Linked DNA regions of Homo sapiens. The protein of the gene in region 2 purifies or fractionates together with the protein of the main gene of each other region. This does not show direct contact. Each region holds a gene or a part of one and is shown on either strand. Other genes may lie near its edges.

Region 1 (7,025 bases), on a different chromosome or scaffold from region 2:
CTCCTGGGCAGTGTCTTCAGCTTGTGGTGCTGCTTTTCACCTGAGTGGCCCCATCTCCCCCACTGCCCTCTAGGGTGGCCTCTACAAGGTGCGCACCCTATCTTGCTCATCACATTTTTCCTGCTGTTCTCCTCATGGCGAGCGTCTGGCATGCGAGGTGCATGCCAGAGAAGACCTCACAAGGAAGGTGATTCTTGGGCAATTCAGGCAGAAGACCAAGAAGGTATTAGAGGAACAGCAAATAATTAATGTATATACGTATTGAGTTAATGAATGTTGGCTGGTGCCTGGAGACGGGATTGGAGAGCCAGCCAGGGTTTGAGCTGATCTGAACTTGACCTCCATGTCACAGGCAGAGGGGTCCCCGCTTCCCCTTTCCCTGGCCAGCTCTGATTTTGTGTGCTGTTTTCCTGTCATGAGAGTGAATGATAGGAGTAGTCGGGCCCTGTGGAAAGAGGACTCTGAGCCAACAGCCAAGGCTCTTGACCCTGACTCTGCCTCTTAGCAGCTGCATGAGTGGAGGCCACTGGCCATGGAGCCTCAGTTTCCACAGCGGACAGTTGAAGGGCTGGATTTTCAGCTGAAATATCATTAAAGCTGCGTGAGTGGAGGCCACTAGCCACGGAGCCTCAGTTTCCTCAGCTGACGCTTGAAGGGGCGGATTTTGAGCTGAAATATCGTTAAAGCCTGTTTCAGCTCCAAATTTGCGTCTTTCTGACCAGTTTCTTAAGTTTTCCTCCTTTAGCCTGGGCAATATAGTGAGACCCCTGTCTTTTCAAAAGAGAAAAAAGAATTAGCCAGGCGTGGTGGCACGCACCTGTGGTCCCAGTTACTCAGTGGGCTGAGGTGAGAGCATTGTCTGAGCCCTGGAGGTTGAGGCTGCCATGAACTCGGATTGCGCCACTGCACTCCAGCCTGGGCAGCCTGAGGAGCAGATTGAGACCCTGCCTCAAAAAAAAAGTTTTTCCCCTCCAAGACCTGGTGCCAGCCGGGTGCGGTGGCTCACGCTTGTAATCCCAGCACTTTGGGAGGCTGAGGTGGGCGGATCACCTGAGGTCAGGAGTTCAAGACCAGCCTAGCCAACATAGGGAAACACTGTTTCCACAAAAATACAAACATTAGCTGGGCGTGGTGGCATGCACCTGTAGTCCCAGCTACTCCGGGGGCTGAGGCGGAAGAATCGCTTGAACCCAGGAGGCGGAGCTTGCAGTGAGCTGAGATTGTGCCATTGCACTCCAGCCTGGGTGACAGAGCGAGACTCTGTCTCAAAAAAAAAAAAAAAAAAAAAAAGCCCTGTGCCAAGTATCTGAGGTAGCGGACAGGGAGCATGTGGACACTAGGATGCTCTGTTTTCACTTCAAGTAACCCACTCCCAGCAGACTGGCTTGGGGCATTACTCCTCTTAGCATAGGCAGCAATGAATATGCTCCAGGATTTGAAAAGGTGCCTCGTGTCAAGCTCTGCCCCTCAAAGTTGTAGCTTTTGTGGCTCAGGTAGTGAACTAACTTAATGTCTCCTAAAATTAACTTCATCCTTTCTGATTGACGTCAACCCAGCGGCCACTGCATTTGGTCAGCATGCATTCAGTGTGTGAGAGTTAATAAACTGTTTCTTTTTTTTTAAATTGGCATTAAAAAAATTCTAGTCCTTTTATTTAGTCCCAGTTTTAGAATTTTTTTTTTTTTGAGACGGAGTTGCGCTCTGTCGCCCAGGCTGGAGTGCAGTGGCGCGATCTCGGCTCACTGCAAGCTCCGCCTCCCGGGTTCACACCATTCTGCTGCCTCAGCCTCCCGAGTAGCTGGGACTACAGGTGCACGCCACCACGCCCGGCTAATTTTTTGTATTTTTAGTAGAGACGGGGTTTCACCGTGTTAGCCAGGATGGTCTCGGTCTCCTGACCTCGTGATCCACCGGCCTCGGCCTCCCAAAGTGCTGGGATTACAGGCGTGAGCCACTGTGCCTGGTGCCCTACCTTTCTTAATGTGGACATCTTGCATAACTACAGGACATATTCAACACCAGGAAACAGACACTGGTACACACCACCAGGCATATTCAGATTTCGTTAGATCGACATGCACGTGTGTGTGTGTGGTTCTATGCAGTTTAGCACCTGTAGCTTTGTGTAACCGGTTCCCTACCTCAGTCAAGATACAGAACTATACCATCATCACAAAGCTACCCCTTATAGCCATACTCCTGAAACTAATCTGTTCTCCATCTCTGTAATTTTGTGGGCTCAAGGATGTCATATAAAGGGAATCACATCATATGTGATCTTTTGAGATTGCTTTTTTCCCCCTCAGTACAGTCCCATCGAGGTCCATTCAGGCTGGTGCATTGATTGACATTGTATTTGAGCAAAAGATACCGAGAAAACAAAATAACTGCTGAAATTGGGGAAACAAGACCATAATTATTTGCTATTTATTCAGTTATTTTGGAACTTTCGTTTGTTTTTACACAAATGACATATCTGCAGAGGAGAGTTGTATCTAACTTAGTGAATGCATGTCTTTATGCATTGCTGTTGACATGCCAACACTAGAATATTGTTGGAGAGACACAGCACTGCTGAAAATGTTGTCAGGCTCTGAGAATTGACTGCAAAACAATCAGGACTGCAAGGAAAGGGAAGAAGTGATAAGTCCTTTTGAGACCGGTCAGTTTGCCAGGAAAACAACTTCAGGCAGGAAATGACCATTTTTATTTCTCTACATGTGGTGCTGGTGTGGTGCAGATGCTTGGAGGCGTTTTCTTTAACCCCCCCAGGTCCTCACATGAAGGGGAAACAGATGGAGAGATGTTATTAGCAAGATGGCAAAAATGAATTTCCATGGTCTTGAAGAAAGTGATACAGTTTTGCTGCAGGTTTCACGATAAATTAGAAAAATTATCAGTGCTCTGCTCATTGTGGTTGGCATAAAACTTGGTCCCTTCCATTTCTTGTTTTTTTTTTTTTTTTTTTGAGGCAGAGTCTCCCTCTGTCACCCAGGCTGGAGTGCAGCGGTGTGATCTCGGCTCACTGCAACCTCTGCCTCCTGGGTCCAAGTGATTCTTGTGCCTCAGCCTCCTGAGTAGCTGGGGCTCCGCCACCACCACGCCCGGCTAATTTTTTGTATTTTTTAGTAGAGACAGGGTTTCACTGTATTAGCCAGGATGATCTCGATCTCCTGACCTCGTGAGCCACCACGCCCGGCCAGGTTCAAGTGATTCTTGTGCCTCAGTCTCCCGAGTAGCTGGGATTACAGGTGTCTGCCACCACGCCTAGCTAATTTTTGTGGAGACGTGGTTTCACCAAGTTGGTCAGGCTGGTCTCGAACTCTTGGCCTCAAGTGATCCACCTGCCTCGGCCTCCCAAAGTGCTGGGATTACAGGCGTGAGCCCCTGTGCCTGGCCATTTCTGTTAACTTTCTTGAAATTAGATACCCTTTGAATTGTGTTTCAGTGGGACTAAAGTTAAATTTTATTTGTTCATGCAATTCCAGTTATGGAGTCATAAATTAGATATGGAGAAACTGAACACTAAATTTTAAACTCTGCTTAAACTTCAGTATAAAAATTAAACATAAAGTTATACTGATTTTCGTGCAGACGAGTGAAGATCAGCATCAGAATTGGTCAGTCTGCTTTTGCATTTCTTAAATAACCTTCACAGTTAAAAGCTCATTTTGTCCTTTTGACTGTACATTCCTAAAAAGTGCTGACTCTTAGAAAAGAATGCTCTCCTTGCATGTCTTCTTTTGCATGCTTCTGCATAATGTGTGTTCCTTAGAAACCAGTTTAGGAAATGTGTCATGGTGGCTATGGAGAGAAGGAAGGAAGTCCTTGCTCGGGTTGAATTTTTCTTGCCAAGGTTGGTGGTCACTGCTTCTGGGACACCCTGGTTCTCTTCACAGTGTTTTCCGTCTGGCTCCTCTGAAGGTCAGGATCACTTTCTTTTATGACAAGTTGAAGTGTCCTGGTGGTGAACATATTTTGTGCCAGATACTTACTATTACTTCTCTTTCCTCTTAAAATGAACTGTTACTTTTGGTAACAATCTGTGTCAAGATTTTGTAGTAGAAGAGTTCCTGGAAAGGCTGTCAGTGAAGGATTAAATGGCATTTCCTTGGCTCTTAAAAAAATCAAATACGCCGGGCGCTGCGGTTCACGCCTGTAATCCCAGCACTTCGGGAGTCCGAGCCAGGTGGATCACCTGAGGTCGGGAGTTCGAGACCAGCCTGACCAACATGGAAAAACATGTCTCTACTAAAAATACAAAATTAGCCAGGTGTGGTGGCACGTGTCTGTAATCCCAGGTACTTGGGAGGCTGAGGCAGGAGAATCACTTGAATTTGGGAGGCGGAGGTTGCAGTAAGCCAAGATTGCGCCACTGCACTATAGCCAGGGCGACAAAGTAAGACTCCGTCTCAAAAACAAACAAACAAAAAACCCCAGAAATGAACAGTTTTTACCAGGCCACATGATGTCCCAGACTTAGATTATAAAACCACATTTGCTGATTCTGGCAGCATGTTCCTTCTTCAGAACCTTCCTGACTTTAGCTTGAAAGCTGAGCTGGTTGAAACGTCTTGAAAAGCAGTATGTGCAGTTTTGTCACGAGAGAATTTCCGGGTGGGTGGGATAGGTTGAGGTGGGTGTTCCCGTGTAGAAGTGGGGGCTGAAGCTGTGTGGTAAGATGAGCTCTGTGCTTGGGACAGGGTTGTAAGGGTCTGGCCAAGACGCATAGAAGAAATAGCATGTGAGTAGGAAGCAGCCCTATTTTAAATAGCGCCCTGGAGACTTGAATTGGGAAGAGGACCAAGAAGAGTGTGAGGCAGTGAGATGCCCAGCACCAGGGTGGGAGAGGCGAGTTCCAGTGACTCGTGGGCACTCAGGAGCGGGGATGACCCCAGAGACACAGGGAGCTTGGAACCATGCTTCTGTATTCAGACATGACTTTCTGCCAGCTTTGCACGCTTTTTCCTGAAACATTGTTGGCAGAGGGGAACTTGTATCTTCTGTTCAGTTGATTCTCGATTTTAAACGTTTGTTGCCTTTTGGAGCCTGCACTTCCCCTTACCTGGTGATTGGAGTGTGGGAATGGTTGGGGGTATCAAGGCTTCAGCAGGCTGGGAAGGTGGCAGGAGCACAGGGTGCCAGGGGTGGGCTGAGGGGCTGGTGGGTGCTCCGGGATTTTAGGAGGAGTGCTGTGCCCACAGCTGCTGTGTGTCCCTGAGGCCAGGGAAGTCCTGACTCCCATGCTAGGTTCTTTCTGCCCCATGTAGCTCCCTCAGCGCCCCCACCCCGATACCTCAGGAAACTCCAGGTCGAAACTCCAGGTCGAGTGGCAGACCTCCTGCTGGGTGCGTTCTTAGGAATAACACTTCTAGCCGGGGGTTTGGGTCAGATCCTGATTCTACTCTCCTTTGTTTCCCACTTTTAAATTTTTTATATTTATATTTAAAATTTAGAGACAGGGTCTCACTATGTTGCCCAGGATGGTCTTGAACTCCTTGGCTCAAGTGATCCTCCCCCATCAGCCTCCCAGAGTGCTGGGATTTATAGGTGTGAGCCACTGCGCCCAGCCCTTTCCCACCTTTTCAAATTGTAGCCCTGTCGAGAGCCTGGAGTCTTCATCTTTGCCTGAAATTCAGACTCCGAGTTGTGATGGTTTTGTGTTCATCTCTGTGCTTGGCTTCAGGATACTCCCCATTTACCTTTCTTCTCACCCACCCTAAGCTTTGGTGTCTGTCTACGGGTTTGCTTAGAAGTGTAGAGACCAACAGCCAACATGGGGTGCCTGGCTTTTGTTTTTGCGTTGTGGGGTGTTTTTCTTACCTTTAAAATCCCTCTGATGGCAGCACAAGGGTGTAATGAGGATTAGTTATTTAGCATATCTAAAGAACTTTGAGCTCCTTAGGGCAGGCGGCACTGTATTAGGATTTATGTTTTGCTTTTTCTGTGGACCGCCTTTGTGTTTCATGTAATGTAGCTGAAATAGCAAGTACGTGTTTCTTTTCTTTTCTTTTTTTTTTTTGGAGATGGAGTCTCATTCTCTCACCCAGGCTGGAGTGCAGTGGCGCAATCTTGGTTAACCGCAGCCTCTGTCTCCTGGGTTCAAGCGATTCTCCTGCCTCAGCCTCCGGAGTAGCTGGGATTACAGGAGCGCACCACCATGCCCGGCTAATTTTTGTATTTTTGGTAGAGATGGGGTTTCACCATTTTTTTTTTTTTGAGACTGAGTCTTCCTCTGTTGCCAGGCTAGAGTGCAGTGGTGCGATCTCTGCTCACTGCAACCTCTGCCTCCCAGGTTCAAGTGATTCTCCTGCCTCAGCCTCCCGAGCAGCTTGGACTACAGATGCGCGCACCACCATGCCCGGCTAATTTTTGTATTTTTTTTAGTAGAGACGGACTTTCACCATGTTGACCAGAATGGTCTTGATCTCTTGACCTTGTGATCCGCTAGCCTCGGCCTCCCAAAATGCTGGGATTACAGGTGTGAGCCACCGCGCCCAGCTGGGGTTTCACCATTTTGGCCAGGCTATTCTCAAACTCCTGACCTCAAGCAATCCACCCACCTCGGCCTCTCAAAGTGCTGGGATTACAGGCATGAGCCACTGTGCCTGGGCGGTTTTGAATTTTTAGTAGAGACAGAGTTTCGCCGTGTTGGCCAGGCTGGTCTTGAACTCCTGACCTCAAGTGATGCGCCTGCCTTGGGCCCCCAAAGTGTTGAGATTACAAGTGTGAGCCACTGTGCCCGGCCAGTTTTTTTTTTTTTTTTTTTTTTGAGATAGAGTCTCGCTGTGTTGCCCAGGCTAGAGTGCAGTGGTGTGATCTCGGCTTACTGCAACCTTCGCCTCCCGGGTTCAAACAATTCTCTGTCTCAGCGTCCTGAGTAGCTGGGATTGCAGGCACCTGGCTAATTTTTTGTATTTTTAGTAGAGACGGAGTTTCACCATCTTGGCCAGGCTGGTCTTGAACTCCCGACCTCGTGATCCACCCGCCTTGGCCTCCCAAAGTGCTGGGAATTACAGGCGTGA
Region 2 (7,025 bases):
GCAGGTCTGCAAGGCCAGAAGCAGACCCACATCCACGCGGAGCCGCCGGGGCCCCAGCCTTGTTTTCCGTAGCGGAGGATGTGCTTCTGTTCACACAGGCCACAGGGCTGATCTTACAAACCACTTATAAAAAGCCGCGGGGGCGGGGGGAGGGGTAGCTGCACCAGGCCGACATGTTTCCTATTCAGAGAAAATCGCATCTTGTTTTTTAAACTGATAGGTGCTAACACGTTTTAACAACATGGATTGCAACGTCTTTCTTCAGCAAATCCGTATTAACCTCTCAGTAAACGTTTTGATCCTGTTTGAGGTTCAGTGTGGCTGCCTGTTCCTTCTCGTTGGATAGGGTTAGGGTTTGTTTTTTTGTTTTTTTTTTGAGACAGGGTTTCACTGTGTTACCCAGGCTGGAGTGCAGTGGCGTGACACAGCTCACTACAACTTTGACCTCCCGGGCTCAAGCGATCCTCCCACCTCAGCCTCCCAAGTAGCTGGGACTACAGGTGTGCACCAACATGCTCAGCTAATTTTTGCGTTTTGTGGTGATGGGATTTCGCTGTGTTGCCCAGGCTAGTCCCGAACTCCTGGCCTCAAGTGAGCCACTTGCCTCTGCTTCCCAAAGTGCTGGGATTACAGGTGTGAGCCACTGTGTCCGACCAGGGCTGGGATTTTTGTCCTGGGGTTCATGATTGGGCTTCAGGGGGTCATAATTCCCTGGAAAATGTACTTATAACATATGGAAAGCCAAGTGTGGTGGCACATGCCTGTAATCCTAGCACTTCGGGAGGCTGGGGCAGGAGAATAGCTTGAGGCCAGGAGTTTGAGACCAGCCTGGGCAAAATTGCGAGACTCTGTCTCTACAAAAAATTAAAAAAAAAAAAAAGTTAGCCAAGTGTGGTCCCAGCTACTTGAGAGGCTGAGGCAGGACGATCACCTGAGCCCAGTGAGGTCCAGGCTGCAGTGAGCTGTGATTGCACCACTGCACTCCAGCCTGGGCAACAGAGTGAGACCCTGTCTCTAAAGAACAACAAACACAAGCAAGCATATGGGGCTTGACTTTTTCTGAGGAGAGGCTCTGTGTGTGGCCTTCTCTGGGGTCCTGGACCTGAGAGCGTGGAGACCCGAGTGTGAGACAGCAGCTCTAGCCGGTCCAGCCTCCACTTTCACGATGGCACTTACGAGCACTGTCAGCCCTTCCCTGGCCTGGGTGGCCCCTCCACCCGCTCCAGGAAGAGCACCAGTGGCTGGGGCAGGGCCCCCCATGCCTTGGCAGGGCCACATTTGGAGGGTGGGCCAGCCGTGCTCTTGCAGCCACAGTGCCCCAGAGCCTGGGCGGGCTGCCAAGGTGTCCCGTCTTCCTTCTTGCTTCCTTCCAGGGCATTTGCCCATTTGCATGAGTTCCCAGCCATCCAGCCCTGGCCACATGGTCCCTGTGCCACCCCAAGCTGCCCCTGCTGCCTCCTCAGGTGCCCTGGCCCCTGCACACATGGGAGCCTAGGCCTCAAGGGGCCTCAGTGTTTTTCACTAGCCCCGCTCCAACCCTTCCTGGGCCTGTGTGCACCAGGTTACTGTGCTGGGAAGTTTCTACTGTGGCTTGTCTTGAATTTTTGTTCTGGAAGTCCTTGGTTTAAAATACAGCAAAACAGGCTGGGCGCGGTGGCTGACGCCTGTAATCCCAGCACTTTGGGAGGCCAAGGCGGGCAGATCACGAGGTCAGGAGATCGAGACCATCCTGGCTAACACGGTGAAACCCCGTCTCTACTAAAAATACAAAAAATTAGCTGGGCGTGGTGGCGGGTGCCTGTAGTCCCAGCTACTTGGGAGGCTGAGGCAGGAGAATGGTATGAACCCGGGAGGCGGAGCTGGCAGTGAGCCGAGATGGCAACACTACACTCCAGCCTGGGTGACAGAGCGAGACTCTGTTTCAAAAAAATAAATAAATAAAATACAGCAAAACAAAAGCCCAAAGGAGCAGTTCTGGCACCAAGTTGTCTGAGGCTCTGTTTCTAGGGTTAGCGTGTTTGGGCATCTGAGGTGTGCTGTGTGGTGCTGCCCTGGCCCTGAAAGCCACCAGCTGCCCCTGAAGGTCTCACATCCCTGGACAGCGCCCATCCCGGTCCAGGCTTAGAGCTCACACAGTTGCTCTGGAAGCAGACATTTGAGAAGTGAGGTCTTTATGGTTCCCGGCTTTGTGGAAGAAGTTACAGGCACCTCTGCCCTCAAGGAAGCGGGTCTAGAAGGGGAGGTCGGGCCGTGCTGGGTGGCCTGTCGGCCTGTGGATTCGGAACACTGAGGCAGGAAGTACGTAAGGGCCCGGGTCCAGCCCCAGGATGGGGAGGTGGTAGCTGTGGTGCCTGCCCGTCAGAGGTCTTTGCAAGTGTAGCAGGACCGTCTTCCGCCATGACACACATTGATTATGTATGTACTTGCTCATGGGAGAAAACTGGTGAGTTTGGAATGGTTTAAGGAAGAGCTAAACTCACAAGCACATCCCAGCCTCAGTTCTCCGTGCAGCCTCAGAGGTGCTGCAGGCCCCGGGAGACAGCCCTGTGGATGGAGGGAGGAGCCGAGGGGAGCCTGGGGTCATTGCCGGGTTCAGCCTGGAGGACTGACCTGAGGCCAGCCCACCTCAGAGAAGCCCCTCGTGTGGACTTGGCCAGGGGCCAGGGGTTGCTATTGGGGTCCTCTGTGGGTCCTGCCCTCTCGGTCCTTGGAGGGCAGAGACAGGGGCTGTGCTGTGAGGGATCAGGGCCAGCCCCCCAAGGCCTCCTCTAGCTGGCGTGGCCGAGGGTGCCCGTGAGTGGGTACAAGGGCCACCTCTCCCCATCCCTGGCCATGTCTGAGGTCTGGTTCTGCACAGCACAGGTGTCCACACCCACCCTCAGCGGAAGCCCACCTGGGGCCACATGTCCCCAGCAGTGTGTGGTAGTTCCCTCAGGCCTTGAGGCCAGTGCTGAGACCCTCCAGGAACCCAGCACCTCGCGTCCTGCCACATGGGCCCTCTTCAGGGTGCTGCCCCATCTCCCTGCCGGGCCCAGCACAGGGCACAGCACGACTGCCCTCCCTGGCAGCCACACCTCCTCCTCTGACCATAAGTGCTCATCTCTCTTCTTGCATGTCTCAGTCGACCTTGAAACAGCCTGAGAGTGGGGGAGTTGCCTCCTTTACACGTTCCTGGAGTCAGGGTCGGGCTGAGGGGTCAGGGACTGAGGGGGTCAGGGGCTGAGGGGGTGTCCACGCAGCCAGGCTGAGGTGTGGGCCCACCTGCCCGGCTGGCAGCCCCAACCCCGGCCCGTCCCTGTACGGCTGGGTACAGGAAGAGCTCTGTGAGCTCCAGTCCAATGCGGGGCCCTCAGCCTGTCCTGCAGGGAGGTTTGGAGGAAGCCAGGCTTTTAGGCAGAGGCCGGTGGTGTGACCCCCGTGAGAAGTGTGTCAACCCAGGGGGCCTCTGGTGGGGGTGCTTGGACACACAGTGTAGACGCTGAGACTGGCCCACCTAGGGGCTGGGTTTGCGGGGGAGGGGCACTGCCGCCCTCGTGCCAGCATCCCCTTGGGACAGGGCTGCCTTGGTGCCACCTGCAGTTCTGCTGTGTGGCTCTGATAGGAGCTGGGGCTCAAGGTCTGAGCACTCCTGTCTGCGCACCTCCCCCACCAGGAGTCTCTGCCTGTGCAGACACTCGGAGGGCCCGGGAGGCTGTGCCCCCCCAACCCCAACCGGGCCCTGCTCACCCCCGCACCCCCCCCACCCACCAGGCCCTGCTCACCCCCTGGCCCCCCTCCCAACCTCCACCGGGCCCTGCTCACCCCCTGCCCCGCCCCCCCCACCTCCACCAGGCCCTGCTCACCCCCTGCCCCCTCTTCCAACCTCCACCTGGCCCTGCTCACCACCTGCCCCCCCCACCTCCACCAGGCCCTGCTCACCCCCTGCCCCGCCCCCCAACCCACCAGGCCCTGCTCACCCCCTGCCCTGCCTCTGCAGGTCCACAGCAAGGACAAGAAGTATGTGTGCAAGGTGTGCAGCCGCGTCTTCATGTCCGCCGCCAGCGTGGGCATCAGGCATGGCTCCAGGCGCCACGGTGTGTGCACCGACTGTGCTGGCCGCGGCATGGCCGGGCCCCTGGACCATGGCGGCGGAGGCGGCGAGGGCTCTCCAGAGGCGCTGTTCCCAGGCGACGGGCCCTATCTGGAGGACCCTGAGGACCCACGAGGGGAGGCGGAGGAGCTGGGCGAGGACGACGAGGGCCTGGCCCCTGAGGATGCGCTGTTGGCGGACGACAAGGATGAGGAAGACTCGCCGCGGCCGCGCAGCCCCCCAGGAGGCCCTGACAAGGACTTCGCCTGGCTCTCCTAGGCCCGCCCGCCGGCAGGGTCGGTGGCTGCCTCGCTCCGTCCACCCGTGTGTGTGTCCGGTGGGTCTCCACTGCGGGGCCAGGGCCACGCTCACCCCTCTCGCGGCCCCTCCTCTGCTTCCCCCTGAACCCACCCCCCACGGAAACCAGCCCTGCGGGCTAAGCAGGTGCGACCCCAGCAAGAGGGGTGCTCTGGGACCAGACATGAAGTGAGTTGGGGGAGGGCACAGGGTGGGTTTGAGTGAAGGGAGAGCACGGTCCTAAGTCCCCAGCAGGTGGTGCGGGTGTGTGAGTGGCCCCTGTGATGGCCAGCCTGGCTTGGACACGTGATGGGCCTGTGGCCGGGTCCAGTGGGCACTGGGCGGGGTGGTGTGTTCGGCCCAGAGGCCCCTGGCCTGAGCAGGTGCAGAGTTTTACAGACACCCGGTCAGCCCGGCTGGAGCCCGCCCTCCCCTCCCCTAGCAGCCAGGTCACTGCCTGTGGCTGCAGCCGTGGCCCGTGGTGCAGCCGTGGCCCATGGCAGCCTGTAGAATCCAGGTGCACAGAGAGCCCTGCCACCGTCTTACCTCTGGGCTTTGGTGCTTAACACACAACACAGCTGCAGACCCTGCTGGAGGCCGAGGGCTCCAGGTGCTATCTTAGGTGGACACAGCCCTGGGGGCTCCTTCCAGGAGGGGACCCTCAGCCCTGTGCCCCCCACCACTTCAGGCCACACCAGGTTCCCTCTGCAAGGGCCTCGGCTCAGTCGTGTGCACTTCCTCGGAGAGCCTTGGGCTGCCACGTCCACCCCGGGCTCTGCCCGTCCTGTTCTGCCCATGGCCCAGCCCGGCCGCTCCTGCTGACCCCTCCTGGACGGGCTGGAGCTGGGCTCCTGCCTTTGCTGCTAACACTGGAGGCGGTGTTCCTAACTGCAGTGTGCTGCTTACACCTCCCCGCGTGGGTAACCAAATTTTTAAGTAGTCAGAGACATATCGAGGTAGTTACATAAAATTATTTTGTTTGGCATTATTTTTCTCACTCGAAGAAACTATATAGGGTTGTTTTTCCTTTAGCTTGTGCTCAAGTCCTCTTGCTGTGTTTTCAGAAGCACTCACATGTTCTTTCTTTTCCTGAGTGAAAAGCAAAGGTCCCACGGTGTGTGCTGTGGTGCACCGCCTGGCTTTGGGGGTCCCGGAGGCAGGCTGCCTAGACTCACAGCCTCGGGACCGTTGCCACGGCCTGTCTTCTCGTTCAGGCCTGCCTCTGACAGCACTCACCATGAGGACATTCCATCCTTCACCCCCTCCTCTGGCACAGGCCACCACTGCGGTGCTGTGCCTTCAGATGGGAGGTGGGCGCGGTGGCCTCCTCCTTCCCTCCAGGACCTGCCCGTGTGAAGACCCCCCGGAGTGCTGAGCTTCAGGGCTGCGTGGAAAGAGTTTTTACTCTCTTTTTCTAGCCTGTATACCAGGCTTTTCCCCACATTGTCAGGTAGAGCACCAGCTTCCCTGACCGCTGCTGCTCGGGGAGGGCTGGGGCTGGCCGGGGGTCCTGTGGAGGAGTACATGGAGGACTCCAGGTACAGCGCAGGAGTCACGGCTTTTGTTTTTTGACATTGGCCCCCGGTTCTACCAATGACAGGGTGCCCTGGCTGGAGCTGTCATCACACACACCCCTCAGCTCGGAGGCTGTGGGCTCCTCAAAGCTGGAGAAAGAGGCCAAGATTTTTCTGCACACGGAGTGTGGGGATAGGAGCCGGGCCAAGCGCTGGCCCCTCAGCGGTGAGCCCTGCCCACTCTTACCGAGCAAGGTGGGTGGCTCTGGCACGAGTCCCCCAGGGGGAGAGCATGGCTACCAGGGAGCTGCAGCGGAGCCCTCCAGCCCTCACCCCAGGCCAGCCCCACCCCGGCCTCTTTGAGAATTCTCAGAACTTTGTACCTTTCCCCTGATTTTTAAACCCTTTTTCTAAACAGACTGACTTTCTTACAAAATGCATTTGGAAACCAGACCTTTGCTACCCACCAATGTCTCTGGGTTTTGTACCAGTCCCTGCTCTCAGGCCACCCTGCCCAGGACCCAGGCCCGCCTCCCCCTCCACACTCAGGATGTCCTGCTCCATCTGGCCGGCTCACTCCGTGTGGCCTGCCTTTGCTGACCGTTTTGGGGTTCCCCGCCGGAGCTACAGGGGCATTTTCTTCCCTAAAACCAACAGTGTCCCACTGACCTCCCCAAGTGTTTGCTGCGTGGCAGATTTCCTGTTCTTGTTCGCAGTTTGCCGACTGAAGAGTGTGGGATTTCCGAGGCCCAGGTGAGCACGTCCATCTCAGGAGGCGTGGAGGGAAAAGACATGTCATGAAGGGTTTTTTTTATGTGACTGATTTTTTTTTAAATCGATGTTCAAACTAATAAATATTTTTTTATGAAGAGGAAAAATGTGTAGATTACATTTCACATTTTGTATTTTTGTTTGTGTCTGTTTGTATTTTGGTGTTTACAACACCAAAGTGGGAAATACAGTCCATTGGGGATGGTGTTATTTGGGGGCGGGGAGGGGGCAGGGACACCACGATTTTTCTGTCAAGCTCTGGATCCTGACCAGGTTGTACACTGGGGCTCTCTGAGCTTTGGGACACAGGACACTGCCAGGGCTACGTAGGGAACTGACTCAGAAGACGCAGCTTACTGCTTCCAACTTTGCAC
Region 3 (7,025 bases), on a different chromosome or scaffold from region 2:
TTCTCTGGGGTTTTCTATTCATAAAATAATGTCATCTTCGAATACAAATAGTTTTACTTCTTCCTTTCCAATTTGGAAGCATTTTATTTCTTTTTCTTGCCAAATTGCTCCTTAGAACTTTCAGCACAATGTAAAACAGGATTGCCAAAAGCAGGCATTCTTGTCTTATTCTTGATCTTAAGGAAAAAGTTTTCCACCTTTTATCACTGAATATGTCAGCTGTGGGTTTGTCACATATGGTCTTTATTATGATGAGGAAGCATCACTCTATTCCTAGTTTGATAGGTTTTTGTTTTGCTTTGCTTTTTCAAGAAAGGCTGCTTATTTCACCAAATGCTTTTGCACACCAATTAAGATGACTGGTTTTTTTTTCCTTTCATTCTCTTAATGTGGTATATTACATTGATTGATATTTGTATGTTGAGCCACCCTTGTACTCCTTGGATAAATCATAGTAGGTTACGGTGTAGAATCCTTTTAATCTGGTGCTGAATTCAGTTTGCTAGCATTTTGAAGATTTTTACATACTCGTTAAAGATACTTGTCTGTAGCTGTTGTTTGTTTTGTAGTTTCATTTTTGTAGGGTCTTGGGCTGGCTAATGCTAGCCCCACAGAATAAGTTAAGAAGTGTTGCCTCCTCTTCAATTTTTTTGAAAGAGTTTGAGAAGGACTGGTGTTAATTCTTCTTTAAATATTTGAAAACATTCACCATCAAAGCTATGGTCCTTAGTCTTTCTTCATTGGAAATTTTTTTAACTGATTCAATCTCCTTATTTATTATAAATATATTCCAATTTTCTACCTTTTTCTTTTTTTGTTAAGAGATGGGGTCTTGCTATATTGCCCTAGCTGGAGTGCAGTGAATATAGCTTCAGCCTCCTGGGCTCAAGCAATCCTCCTGCCTCAGGCTCATGAGTAGCTGGAACTCAGAATTTCTACTTCTTGGGTCAGTTTTTCTGGTTTCTGTATTTCTAGAAATTTTTCCATTTCTTCTAGCCTATCCAATTTGTTGGTATGCAGTTATTCATGGTTTTCTCATACAATCCTTTTTAATTTCTATAAAGTCAGTAGTAATGTCTACTCTTTCATTTATGATTTAATAATTTGAGTCTTTTTTCTTAGTCAATCTAGTTAAAGGTTTGTCAGAGTTTTTTAAAATCTTTTCGAAGAACCTAGTTTGGTTTTCAATAATTTTTTTCCATAGCTTTTCTGTCCTCTATCATGTTTATCTCTGGTCTGGTTATTATTTCCTTCCCTCCACGAACTTTGGGTTTAGCCTGCTCTTCTTTCTCAAGGTGTACGCTTTGATTACTGCTTTCAGATCTTCTTTTTTAATGTAAGATTGTACAGCTATAAACTGCCCTCTGAGCACTGCTTTTGCTACATCCCTTGAGTTTTGGAACGCTGTGTTTTCATTCTCACTCATCTCAAGATATTTTCTAATTTCCCTTGTAATTTCTTCTATAAGCCATTGGTTGTACAAGACTCTGTTATTTAATTTCTACATATCTGTGTATTTTCCAATTTTCCTTCTATTATTGATTTCCAGATTCATTCCATTATGGTTAGGGAAGACACACTGTATGATTTCAATCTTTTTTAAATGTATAAAACTTGTTTTGTGATCAAACATATGGTCTATCTGTGAGACTGTTCCATGTGCACTTGAGAAGAATGTGTATTCTTTTGTTGTTGAGTGTACTGTACATATCTGCTAGGTGCAGTGGGTTCATGGTACTGTTCATCCTCTGCTTCTTTGTTAATCTTCTTCCTAGTTGTGCTATTCATTATTGAAAGTGAATTACTTAAGTCTCAAATGATTAATGTACAACTGTCTATTCCTCTCTCCAAGTCTTTCAATTTTTGCTATATATATTTTAAGGATTCTGTTGTTAGGTACATATGTGGTTATAATTGCTACATCTTCCTGAAAGATTAATATTTTATATTTATCAATATATAATAATTCTGTCTCTTGGATCCCTTTTGGACTTAAAACCTGGTTTTTTTGGATAATAAAACAGCTATTATAGCTCTCTTCTGGTGTGGAATATCTTTTTCCATCCTTTCAACCTCTATGTAGTTACTTTCATCAGTTTTCTTTATTCTTCATATGGCTTTCAATTACCATCTAGCATCTTATTTCAGCCTGGAGGACTCCCGTTAGCATTTCTTGTAGGGCAGATCTATTAGTAACAAACTCCTTTAGCTTTTGCTTATCTGGAAATATCTTAATGTCCCCTTGAGTGCCCCTATTCTTTAACAGTTTTGACAAATACAGAATTCTTGCTTGACTTTTTTTTCTTTCGACACTTTAAATATTGTTAGCCCACAGCTTTCTGGCTTCCATAGTTTCTGATGATAAAACAGTTGTAAATCTTATTGAGGAGTGCTTGTATGTGATGAGTCACTTATCTTTTGCTGCTTTGAAGATTCTGTCTTTGACTTCTGACAATTATACTATAATGTGTCTCAGTGTATATCTCTTTGACATTATCCTCCCTGAATTTATTGAGTTTCTTGGACGTATAGATGCGTATCTTCCACCAAATTTCGGAAGTTTGGGCCATTATTTCTGCAAATATTCTTCCTGCCCCTTTTATTTCTCCTTTCCTTCTGGAATTAGCAAAATGTGAATGTTTTTCTGCTTGATGGATGTCCCACCCATCTCTTAGGCTCTACTTACTTTTCTTCACTCTTTTTTCTTTCTCTTTCTTAGACTCAATAAATTCAATTGTCCTATCTTCTTTCTTCCACCTGCTCACTTCGGCTCTTGAATCCCTCTGGTAAATGTTTTATTTCAGTTATTGTACTTCTTAGCTCCAGAATTTCTATTTGGTTCTTTCCATAATTTCTAGCTCTTCATTGACATTCTCAATTTGTTCATACATTATTTTCCTAATTTCCTTCATTTCTTTGGCCATGGTTTCCTTTATGTCTTTGAGCATATTTCAGATAATGGATTTAAAATCTTTAGTAAAATCTTTAGTAAATCCAATGTCCAGGCTTCCTCAAGAATGGGTTCTATTTATTCTTTTTTGTTTTAATGGGTAATACTTTTTTCTTTGCATGCCTTGTAATTTATTGTTGAAAACTAAATATTAAAATATTAGATTATAATGTGGTAACTTGGGAAATTAGATTCTCCCCACTTCCCTACGCTTCACTATTTTTGATTAATCAAGGCTTAGCTTGTGTTCAGCCAGTGTTTTGAAAGAGATTTCCTTGGATGCCAAAGCTTAAAAACAAAACTAAAACAAAAAACAAAAGCACTTATTCAAGTCTTTGCAGACTGGCTCTGTGCTGGGATATTTCTTTAAGACTTAGCCATACCATTCACAACTCTGCCTTGGCCTTTACTTCCTGCTTGTACTGGACCTAGCAAGCACACAGTGATAAAGTTTACAGTCTTCTTAGGTCGTTCCTGAACAAGTGTCCTGCCCTGGGCATGCATGCGGCTTTCAAAATTCCCTTCTATACACTGAGGCTGATTGTCCTAATTTCAAAACAAAAACAAAAATAAAAACAAACTCTCTCCCAGGCTCTTTCTCCTAGGTCAATTGTATGTCTCACCATAATCTATTGCCCAAAGAAGCTTGCTCAAAAGCAAGTTTCTTTCATTTGCCTTATACTGTGTTCAATCAATGCCCACTAATTTTCCTCCCTGACTGGGTTCTAAATTAGGTAAAACAGATATATAAGCACCTGCATCAGCCCTTCAAATAGCTCTCAGGTAGGTTGATCAGACAAATGAATAATTTGCAAATAAGGTCTGCTCTGTTCCCTCTGGAACCAGGGATCTGGGTCCCACACTGGGAACTCGGACTGCTATCTTCAAGACTGTTGCCAAGCTGGGGAATGGGTGAGGCACAGGCAAGTAAAAAACCCACAAAGCATTCTTTCCACCTTTCAGTTGCATTTTTCTTGTCTAGCATTCCTTTGGTTGCTATAAACCTTTGACGTTTCCAGAGTTCTGACAAAGTTGGATCTGATAGTTTAGGCTTGTTTTTCAATGTTTTTTTGGAGAGGCAGGCTTTTGGAGCTGCCTGCTCCAACATTTTGCTGATAGTACTCTAAGTAGTTATTTTTAAAGACCTAAAAATTGATAGCATAGCCAGATCAAAATTTACTAATGTAACATTTATTATTTTTGTACCATTTTATCTGAAAAAAGCCTACAGTGACTTATTTACAGAAATTTCTACTGAGCTCCATGAGCTGGAGTGTTAAACTGCTAAAACTGCATATAATTGAGTCACATAATATAGTAACAATGCATACAATTTCTTAGATATATTTTAATACTTTGACTACTATTATCGTTTGTTTACTGGCAAGTGCTAGATGATAACAAAATATTAGGAAAATTGAAACAGCCCTTTATTCTTAAATAGATTTTTCCTCTAGATACATGATTGTAGTTTTAAAAGATATATACAATAGGAACACATTCCACTGGTAAAATTATTTTGAGTGACTATTATGAAAATAAAAATATAAATATTTCAGGGTGGTATTTCACAAAGAGGATAGTATTCAACCAAAACCAGCCTGATTTTTTTAGGTGCTTCACCATGCTTAAGAAATATTGTTAAGCAGAATCCAATAGTTAAAACATTAGAGTCTACATCTATTAGAGCTCCAAATTGAAATGCTATAAGCAACTGTTTTTGTAAACAAACTGACAGAATTCAAAAGGCACACATATTTGGTATCCGCTAAAGTCAATCAAAATTATAGCAGTTATAAAGAAAATATATTCTAAAGAAATTATCAATAAAATTTACATATATCATTCTAAAACATTTCTCAATTTTTACTGACAGAAGAGGGAAAAAACAGAACCCTGCAACAACTTAATCTGTAGAATCAACAATTCAGTCAATTGCTAAATTAATGAGTTCAAGAAAAAATAACAGTCCCAGGCAAATCATCAATTATGGCTAGTTCCCTCTTAGGCTTTCGTAACTCTATTATACATTTTAACATAGCACTGTCAGTTTACTAAAACCATAATATAAATCCATATTCGGATTTATGAAATATCACTAGGTCATAAAATTAATTTAGTGAGTGGGTCAAGGCCAACATTTAACATAATAGTATAGAACAGAATAGATAATATCCATGTGCATTGCACATAAGGATGTGTATTGTTTCATAAAACTTAATTTCTATTTTATGTATATATGAAAGCCATTCTCTTTCTACTATACCCATAACACTATTCCATCAGAGGAAAGAGTCTATTATGAAATCAGACATACCCAGCTATAGCGGTCTTAAGTACAGAAAAATATTCTCTACACTGCAATGAGATCCTATGTAATTACTTAAGAAGAAAACTACCTAAGGGGAAAAAAATTTGTTTTGCTACTTTTATCAGAATATTACCTCACGTGTAACTAATTCATAATTCAGAAACCATAAATATCCGAAGGAAACATCTAAGTAACAGGCTCCAAAATACCTCACATTCTAGAGAAGATTTACATAATTACTCTCAAAGTTGTAAATATAAGATAAATTCATAATACTTGATTAGCATATTAAATGTTGCTCCTTCTCTACTTCAACCATGACTACGATCTTATTCTTTTTCACAAAAATTACTAGGTATACCCTAAGAAGTCTGCTAAACTACTACCTATTTGTGTTATATCAGAATTAAATATGAAATAGATTTAATCCAGTTCTTAATACATACACCTTTTTAAAATGTTTCATTGTGAAAAATAAATTGCTGAGAAATTTCCATCAAAGTAAATAAAATCATGCTATATACACAAAATATATATTTCTTCATAAAAGATTAATTTAATATGTTTAAGAACTTCATGAAATGCTTTGCTAGTAAATAATCCTGTACATAGCAGAAATGAATCAAGAAAAATATTAAAACAAATAAGACTTTTTGCACAATATGCCTTTGCAAACAAAATAGGCTCCCTTATAAGTTGGTAACATTCTTAATATATAAGTTGTACTGACACACCCAGTACTCACTATTTAGGATAGAGTCTTCCCAAATTTCTTTTCATACCAAGCTTTCAGTTAATTCATACATAAGGTTTAAATTTAAGGATATTCATCTGTTGAATAAATAATCCACTCCGAGCCAAGAAACCTTAAATGCCATTTCCAAAGGAAGTATAATAAACAGAAGGTATGCATAATACTATTTTTAACCCAGTTATTGTACCAAATAGAGGTAATTAGGCCTTTGTTCTAACTTTTATAATCTTCAATTTGGACGTCCATTTATCCCTTAAACATTCAGATATTTAAGCATGTATGTCATCTAGTATAATAAAAGGGGAATTAAAATGTTAATTTTTAAAACCTCATGCTGACCAAAACTACGCAGTTGCCCAAAGCAAAATGTGGTAAAAAATTTAAGTAACAAAAGCATAAATTTATAAAATGGCTGGTCACAGAAGTTCAGGCTCTCACTATAAAACAAAGCAGTTAATTTACTGATTATAACCATGGCACTCTAGTTAACTAATCTAAACAAATATTCATTAATAGGTAAAAAAGATGATTCACTTGAGTCTCTGGGAACTATTTTTAACGTAACCATTTAAAATGTTGTTGCTAGAAAACATTTTTAATTAATTCAAGTAAAATCACTTTATAAATGCTAAAATTTACCTGCTTGAGTCCTTCATCAGTGAGTTTGTCCTGGTTGCCTACATGCACTTTCTGAAGTAAAGGACAGTGAGAGGCAACCGCAATAATAGAGGTGTCAGAAAGCTGTTTACACCTGTAGGCTGTATACCTAAGAAGTCCAGGACATTTAAATGCTAAAACACATACGCCATTATCAGACATACTGCGACAATCAGAAATGTTGATTTCAATTATATTCTGACTTCTTGATGCAATTTTTTCCAACAATTCATCAGTGACCTGTAAGAGAAAAAGCAATAAATTTAAACTTTTGCTAAAAATAAAAACGTATTTTCCATTTTTTAATTAAATGTTCCACAATAAACAATATACTAATTAGATTATAGCATGAA
Region 4 (7,157 bases), on a different chromosome or scaffold from region 2:
AACCTGCACGTTGTGCACATGTACCCTAAAACTTAAAGTATAATAATAATAAAAGAAAAAAATAAAAAGAAAAAAAAAAGAAAGACAGGAGATGAGAACAGCTTTTTTTTTTAAGGGTTTTAGCACTGATTTTTTAAATTATGCGCACGTGCCTGCATTATTTTAAAAAAGAAAAAATAAAGAAGCGATACATAGTAGCCACCCTGCTACTTGCCTGAGAAAGCCTTCCTGCTGGAAGGTGACGTTTTGCTGAGACAAAAGCCTTGAGTCAAAGGAACCCTAGGATCTGATCCTCAGTGACCCTGGACATATTTAAACCCTAAGATGCCCCATTTACTAACTAATCCACAAATGGGGAATGGAGGATATATTCAACTACCTCAGTAGTTTTTTTTCTTTTTTTTTTCCTGAGACAGTCTCTCACTCCGTTGCCCAGGCTGCAATTACAGGCACACACCACTATGCCCAGATAATTTTTGTATTTTCAGTAGAGACAGGGTTTCAACCATGTTGGCCAGACTGGTCTCGAACTCCTGACCTCAAGTGATCCGCCCACCTCGGCTTCCTAAACTGCTAGGATTACAGGCATGAGCCACCACGGCTGGCCAGTTCTTTTTGGTAGGAAAATGTATTGACTATCTTTGTAAATCAAGGAAAAGAAATGAAGTTAGATAAGTTTCCAGTGTCAGCTTTATTACTTTAATCATTTGGCAATTAATGAACCCTGACCCAGGAATCATTTCCCAGGTTTAGTGACAACAGTGATCACATGCCTACCTACTGTCCAGAAGGCCAGAGTTGCTGCGCTACACACAGGGGCTCCCTCACCTTCTCATACACCTTGATGATAAACCCTTAGAATTATCAATCTAAAAACAGAGCTTTTATTAACCTAAAATGACCATCACAGATATAACACATTTAGCAAGCATCAGCTCTATGGCCAAACCACCTGCAACTCCATCTTCTTGGCCACAAGCTCTTCAATCTTGGGCCTCACTGCGCCTGTCTTCTCATTTATAAACGGGGAGGTAACAGTACCTACCTCTTAAGGTTGCTGCTAGGCTCAAATTATTGAATTCATGCAAGGCACTGGCACTATGGCAGGGTTGGACACAAGTCAGGGCTCAGTCAACACAGGCTGTCATTCTCATCAGGTGTGTAAAGCCCTATTCAAGGCTGCCTATGGAACCAGAGACATCTGGAGCCATTTGCTCATCGGTCATGTATTAAACACCTACTACGTGCCCAACACTGTACTAGTGCTGGTCCTACAACCGACTGGCCAAGTTATCTAACCCTTCCTCCTCAGCTAAACAGGAAACAACAGGACGGGCACAATGGCTCATGTCTGTAATCCTAGCACTTAGGGAGGCGGAGGCAGGCAGATCGCTGGAGTCCAAAAGTTCAAGACCAGCCTGGGCAACATGGTGAAACCCCGGTCTCTACCAAAAAAATACAAAAAAATTGGCCAGGTGTGGCAGCACCCGAGGTGGGAGACTCCTTTGAGCCTGGGTGGTCGAAGCTGCAGTGAGCAGTGATCATGCCTCTGCATTCCAGCCTGAGTGACAAAGGGAGATCCTGTCTCAAAAAATAATAATAATAAATAATAATTTAAAAAAGGAAATAACAGCACCTGCTGCACAGGGTGAAGAAAACCGAGGGAGGCGCCTGATCTAAAGGTCTTGCACAGTGTGTGGGATCCAGTGGGTACTTCATAAATGATAGAATTCATCACTACACGTCTTCTCCCCTACAAGCCTAGAAGTGACTTGAAATTTTCTAATTTCGCTTTTTGTTCTCAGTGACTAATATTAATTCCTTGAATGCTGCAGATACTCAGCAAAAACTCCTTGCATTGAATTTAAGAATTCCCCTGCACCTTCCCAGTTTACTTATTTCAACACCCCCCAAAAATGCAGGAAAAAAATAAACAAAAAGGCCATACATTACCTGAGTTAAAATACAGTGTTAAGTCTATGCACCAGGATACTGTACGGCTTCTTACTACACCTTAACTTTCTAAGCTTTAGAAGTCTCAACTGTTACTAGACAGTTAATTTCAAAGAAATACTTCTACGCTGACAGTTTTCTCCAAACCGGTCCCTTATCTCAGCCCTAGGACCACACTATTTCTGCATCTCCACGGACACACCACCTCCTGCTTGCTTTTCCTTCAGAGGGACGCCAGTGGTCCACTCGCAAGACTTTAATCTCTACGCTGCTTCCTTTCCTAAGCAAGGAAACAAACTATCCTTGAGAATGAGCACGGGGAAGGCCGAGACCATTAACAAAAGAATGTGAACTTTTTACATCGAGAGCCCTTTAAAGCTGCTGGTTTGGAAATAAACTTGAGTCCGCAAGCTTCCCACCGAGCGTGCTTTCCTGCTTCTGACAGCCAGCAGGGCTGGAGCAGCATTGTCTGGGGAGAAACACGCCGGGACTGGCCAACTTTTCGTTAAAGATGGTGCCATCCTACTCAGAACAAAGTGAAAGGTCAACGAAGCGAAGGAAGAGCTCCGAGAGGAGGGACAGCCTCGCCTCGGCCGGCGCTCCAAAGTTGGCCGGCCCCGCTACTTTTCCTTTTGTCCTCCGCACCTCCCCGGCACCCTGGCCGAGGCCCTCCCCGCAGATCCGGCTTGCGGGCGGCGGCGGCGGCACGGGGTCCGTGGGGGGCGCGGGCACAGGTACGCGGTCGCCTCCCTCACCTGCGCCCCCGCCCGCTCCCCCAGCCGCCGCCCGGCCCGCGCCGCGCACAAAGCGCGCCCGGCGGGAGCGCGGGCCGGACGCCCGGCGGCCTCGGCCCGGCCTCGGCCTGAGGCGGCGGCAGCGGCGGCGGCGGCGGCGGGGGGACCCGGGGCCCCGCCCGCCCGCCGGCCGCCTGCCGCCGCCCCGCCCGGTTCTTCGCCCCCGCGCCGCCTCCGCCGCTGCCCGCCGCCCCCGCGCCGCCCCCCGCCGGCCCCGCTGCTCACCTCGGCATCGGCGGCGGCCATGGCCCGGGCCCGCAGCGTGGCCCCGCCCCTCCCGCGCGCCATCGCCCCGCCCGCGCCTCGCGGCCCAGAGTCGGGGCGGGGCCGATCGCCTACGTCTGCGCCTGCGCCTGCGCCCGCGCCTGCGCGTTGGAGCTCGACCGGTGCGGCGCCTGCGCACTGGAACCAGGCGTGCGGCGCCCCAGGCGCCGGGCCTGCGGCGGCCGGAACCGGAACGCGCGCCCGCGGGGTAGGAGACCTGGAGCTGGAGAACCCGCCCGCCAGAGTCGTAGTAGTGGATGGGGAGTAGCCGTCCCATTTTCAACACATGTCTCATTCTAAATTGACGTTTTGGTGGGCTGGCCGAAGAAGGAGAAAGACCCGCGGCTCCGACCTCTGACCTCTAACCCCGGACGCACTTTGATTTCGCCGGCTTGCGCGGAAGGCTGACTCCCTGGGCCGCGGCCTGGCGCGGGAGCCGCCTGTGGGGTGTCCCCGGCGCGGGAGGGTGCTCTGGTTCAGGCAGGTTCCCGTTGCGGCGGGGTTCCCTCGGTTGGGAGGAATGCCCCTGCCGAGGGTATGCTCCGGCTGGAGGGGGTGTCCCTAACGGCGGGAATACCTGGACTGGCTGGGGTGTCCCACTGGGGAGGGTTTCCCGGTGGGGAGGTGTCTGGCGGGGGAGCGGCTCCGGCTAAGCATGGGTGTTCTGCTAGGAGGATGTGTCTGGCTGGGGGCGGTGTCCCAATCGGGAGGGTTGCCCTGATGGGGGAGGTTCTACAGTTGTGGAGATGCCAACCTGGGGGGCGCTCCGGTTGGGGGGTGTGCCCTCTCTGGTTACCCCGCTCTCGCTGCCACTCATAGGCCCGCTGCCCAGGTATGCACAAGTCAAGGCCTTTTCTGCAGACCAAGTAGCCTTCCCTGGAGAGCGCCCCCAGCACCACGGAAACTACCTACATGCCCCGCGGTGGTCAGCCCGCCTTATCCCAGCCCCGAGACCCAAAACAAGAAGCATGGACTGAATTTGAGGTTTCTGGATGGTCGTGTGAACCGAGGGGACGGGTACTGGACTGACAAGAAATGAGCCTTGAAGGTCAATCTGGGTGACACCCGAGTCTCCTGGTGAGTCGGACTCCGGAGAATTATCTCAAGTCCAGCATAGACAGCGCACATAGACAGAAAAGGAAACGGACAATCCCAAGTGCCAAGGGAACCTTCCCAGGTTTCTTTAGGGCAGCTAAACTGCTCTGTCAAAGCCTAAGTCCATTTATGACAGGCCGAGCACCCTGAGCCCTCGCAGGAGACACGAGCGCCTTCATGGCCCTCCTGCCCCGCACCCACCTCTCCGCCACCCCTGCTGTCTGTCCCTTCCCTGAAACCTTTATTTCGAGTGTCTTTGTGGCTTCCCTCTTTACCATCCTTGAGTTGAAATATCACCTCTTAAGGGAAGCCTTCCCTCTCCTCCCTAGTTAAAATGATACTGCCCCCCCATACCTGTCTTCGTTGACTTACTTGGCTCCATCACAGTGTGTGTCATGTGACTCTCCCACATCCTGATTTGGAATATTGTCTCCCTACTAGAATGTAAGTCCATGGTGCCTAGAACAATACCTGGTGTACAGGAGACAAAATATTTGTTGACTGGGCCGGGTGCGGTGGCTCACGCCTGTAATCCCAGCACTTTGGGAGGCCGAGGTGGGCAGATCATGAGGTCAGGAGATGGAGACCAGCCTGGCTAACATGGTGAAACCCCATCTCTACTAAAAATACAAAAAATAGCCGGGAGTGGTGCTGGGCGCCTGTAGTCCCAGCTACTCGGGAGGCTGAGGCAGGAGAATGGCATGAACCCGGGAGGCAGAGCTTGCAATGAGCTGAGATTGTGCCACTGCACTCCAGCCTGGGCAACAGAGCAAGACTCTGTCTCAACAACAACAACAAAAAAATTGTTGACTGAATAAAGGGAGTTAGAATGTGAAGAAAAATCCTTCACCAAGCAAACATCCACCCTAAGTGAAGGTGTGGGAAGCAGCTGCAGGCAGCTTTTTCACTCCATTTTTCCATCAGCTGCTACCCTTGTGTGCCCCTCAGCACTTATGTCAAGATGCTGCTCTCAGCACGTGACATGCTAACACTGCAGACTTCAGGTCAGTCCTGAGAGGCAGGCACTGTTCTTACCCACATTTTATAAGTGACTGAACTGAAGCAAGGGAGTGGTGAGAGGCAGTGATGGGATTCAGCCCAGGAGGCCTTCCTTTCAACCATATACTGCACTGCTTCCAGGAGGCGCTTCACAGATGACCCCACCTGTGGTACACTTTCTGCTGTTCTCCAATATTCATGCTGCCTGTCCCACAATTAGTAAAATTTTAGCCAAGTACAGGACTGCCTGGCTAAAGACCACATTTCCAACAGGAAGGGGACAGGTCAGAGACAAAAAGTGACAATCCATTTCCCAGTCTGTCCCTCAAAAGTCCCACCATTAGGCTGGGCAGTGGTGAAAGCTGTCAACAGCCATCTGGGAGCCAGGGATGGGAACCACTATGTAGGAATGACAACTCTGCCACAAGGCCAGGATCTGCCCCCTCTGGACTGTTCAAGAAATAAACTGTCATGCTATGAGGGTGGGGGGCTGTACCCTACAGTCCCACGAGTTTTTTGTGGGGTTTTGTTTTTTTATTTTTTGAGGCAGTCTTGCTCTGTCACCCAGGCCGGAGTACAGTGGCACAATCTCAGATCACTGTAACCTCTGCCACCTGGGTTCAAGCGATTCTCCTGCCTCAGCCTCCTGAGTAATTGGGATTACAAGCATGTGCCATGATGCCCAGCTATTTTTTTTTTTTTTTTTTTTTTGTACAGATGGAGTTTCACTATGTTGCCCAGGCTGATCTGGAACTCCTGACCTCAAGCAATCCACCTGCCTCAGCCTCCCAAAGTACTGGGATTACAGGAGGGAGCCACCGTGCCCGGCCTGGTCCTGTGCATTTTATAGATAAGGTAACTGACAAACCTAGCCACAGTCACCCCTTCGCCCTAAAGGAGAACTGGAATTTGAACCCAGAGCCTTCTTCACCACCATCTCCGTTGTTTCTGGAAGCACCCTCCAGGCAGGCCAGCCAGCATCACGGGGCCTCCCCTGGGGCTGGAACGTCTGCAGGATGCCCCTTTGAGAAATGCTGTTCCACAGAACCCTGCCTTTCAGGCCTTGGAGACGTGGGCAGGGGAGAAGCAGCGTCCCTCAGAGCCAGGCCTGGCAGTGGTGCTAGCAGGGGCCAAGGCCCAGGGAGCAGGGTCTCCTGTCGGAGGGACCTGGGCAAGCCCCTCCACGCGCCAGCGGGTTTCTCAGCAGGGGAGGTCCACACCACACCGCTTGGGAACCTGGGTGCCTAAACGCAACAGGAGCCAAGGCACAAATTTAACCAAACACCAAGGTTGCGTGAGGCCCCATTTCATGAGCCGGGCTCCAAGGACGTGTCCTTAGGCGGCTCTGGAAGGCCCAGCGCCAGCCCCCGTCCTCTGTTAAAGGGAGCCAGCCCCGCGGCTCCGCCCAGGCATGGTAGCCTGAGCGCGCCCCCAGGGTAGTAGGGGGCACCTGAGGAGCAGGGTCTGCCCTGGCATGAGCAGAGCCCAGGATGGGGTCAGGGTCAGGCCCTGCCAGAGGCTGGAGGGTGCCCAAGGCGAGGCCGGTGAGGCCCAGCTCTACAAATAAAGTGTTTTATTTACAGGAGTTGTCTCTCCAGGTCCCAGCTCCCTGCCACCCCCACCCCAGCCCCAGGGAGAAGAGGGCGGATGCCAGAGGAGCTGGCAGAGGCTGGGCAGGTCCTGAGTGGGCCAGGCTAGGCCAAGAGAGAAGGCACGAGGCCCTGGGCGCCCCAGTCCCAGGGCAGAGGCCAGGCCTGCCTGGAGAAGGCAGCACGGGGTCAGCTCTCAGGGGTCAGGCTGGGTTCCACGCCGCCGCAGCTCTGCTCATAAGACGGTGGGGCCTCTGCGGGAAGAAAGCAGGGTCTGCGTGGGGCTCTTGGCGTCCCCTCCCTGCCAAGCCCTGGCTGTCGACTCACCATAGGGGTAGCCCCAAGAACTGTACTCTGGAGGAAGAATCAAGGTGCTGGTAGTGGGCACTGGCCCCCCGGAGCCCTCTGCAAAGTAGGGGACAGTGGCACCTGTTGAAATGCACAAGGGAGGGTGCAGCGGGTG

The links.
Region 1: the proteins of ZBTB46 (region 2) and AP2A2 purify together in Homo sapiens (affinity purification with mass spectrometry; 3 studies listed by BioGRID and IntAct, with this or other methods). This does not show direct contact.
Region 3: the proteins of ZBTB46 (region 2) and FBXL17 purify together in Homo sapiens (affinity purification with mass spectrometry; 3 studies listed by BioGRID and IntAct, with this or other methods). This does not show direct contact.
Region 4: the proteins of ZBTB46 (region 2) and EHMT1 purify together in Homo sapiens (affinity purification with mass spectrometry; 3 studies listed by BioGRID and IntAct, with this or other methods). This does not show direct contact.

What each region holds. Positions count from the first base shown.
Region 1 is NC_000011.10:928,854-935,878, forward strand, and holds part of AP2A2 (AP-2 complex subunit alpha-2), read left to right. Parts: intron 1-4,671; exon of another isoform or gene 4,672-4,744; intron 4,745-7,025. UniProt on the Homo sapiens protein: Component of the adaptor protein complex 2 (AP-2). Adaptor protein complexes function in protein transport via transport vesicles in different membrane traffic pathways.
Region 2 is NC_000020.11:63,744,253-63,751,277, reverse strand, and holds part of ZBTB46 (zinc finger and BTB domain-containing protein 46), read left to right. Parts: intron 1-3,976; coding exon 3,977-4,348; 3' UTR 4,349-7,025. UniProt on the Homo sapiens protein: Functions as a transcriptional repressor for PRDM1.
Region 3 is NC_000005.10:108,358,084-108,365,108, forward strand, and holds part of FBXL17 (F-box/LRR-repeat protein 17), read right to left. Parts: intron 6,913-7,025; coding exon 6,655-6,912; intron 1-6,654. UniProt on the Homo sapiens protein: Substrate-recognition component of the SCF(FBXL17) E3 ubiquitin ligase complex, a key component of a quality control pathway required to ensure functional dimerization of BTB domain-containing proteins (dimerization quality control, DQC).
Region 4 is NC_000009.12:137,614,865-137,622,021, reverse strand, and holds the start of EHMT1 (histone-lysine N-methyltransferase EHMT1), read right to left. Parts: upstream 3,018-7,157; 5' UTR 2,994-3,017; coding exon 2,973-2,993; intron 1-2,972. Other genes in the region: ARRDC1 (arrestin domain-containing protein 1), read right to left, coding at 6,930-7,157. UniProt on the Homo sapiens protein: Histone methyltransferase that specifically mono- and dimethylates 'Lys-9' of histone H3 (H3K9me1 and H3K9me2, respectively) in euchromatin.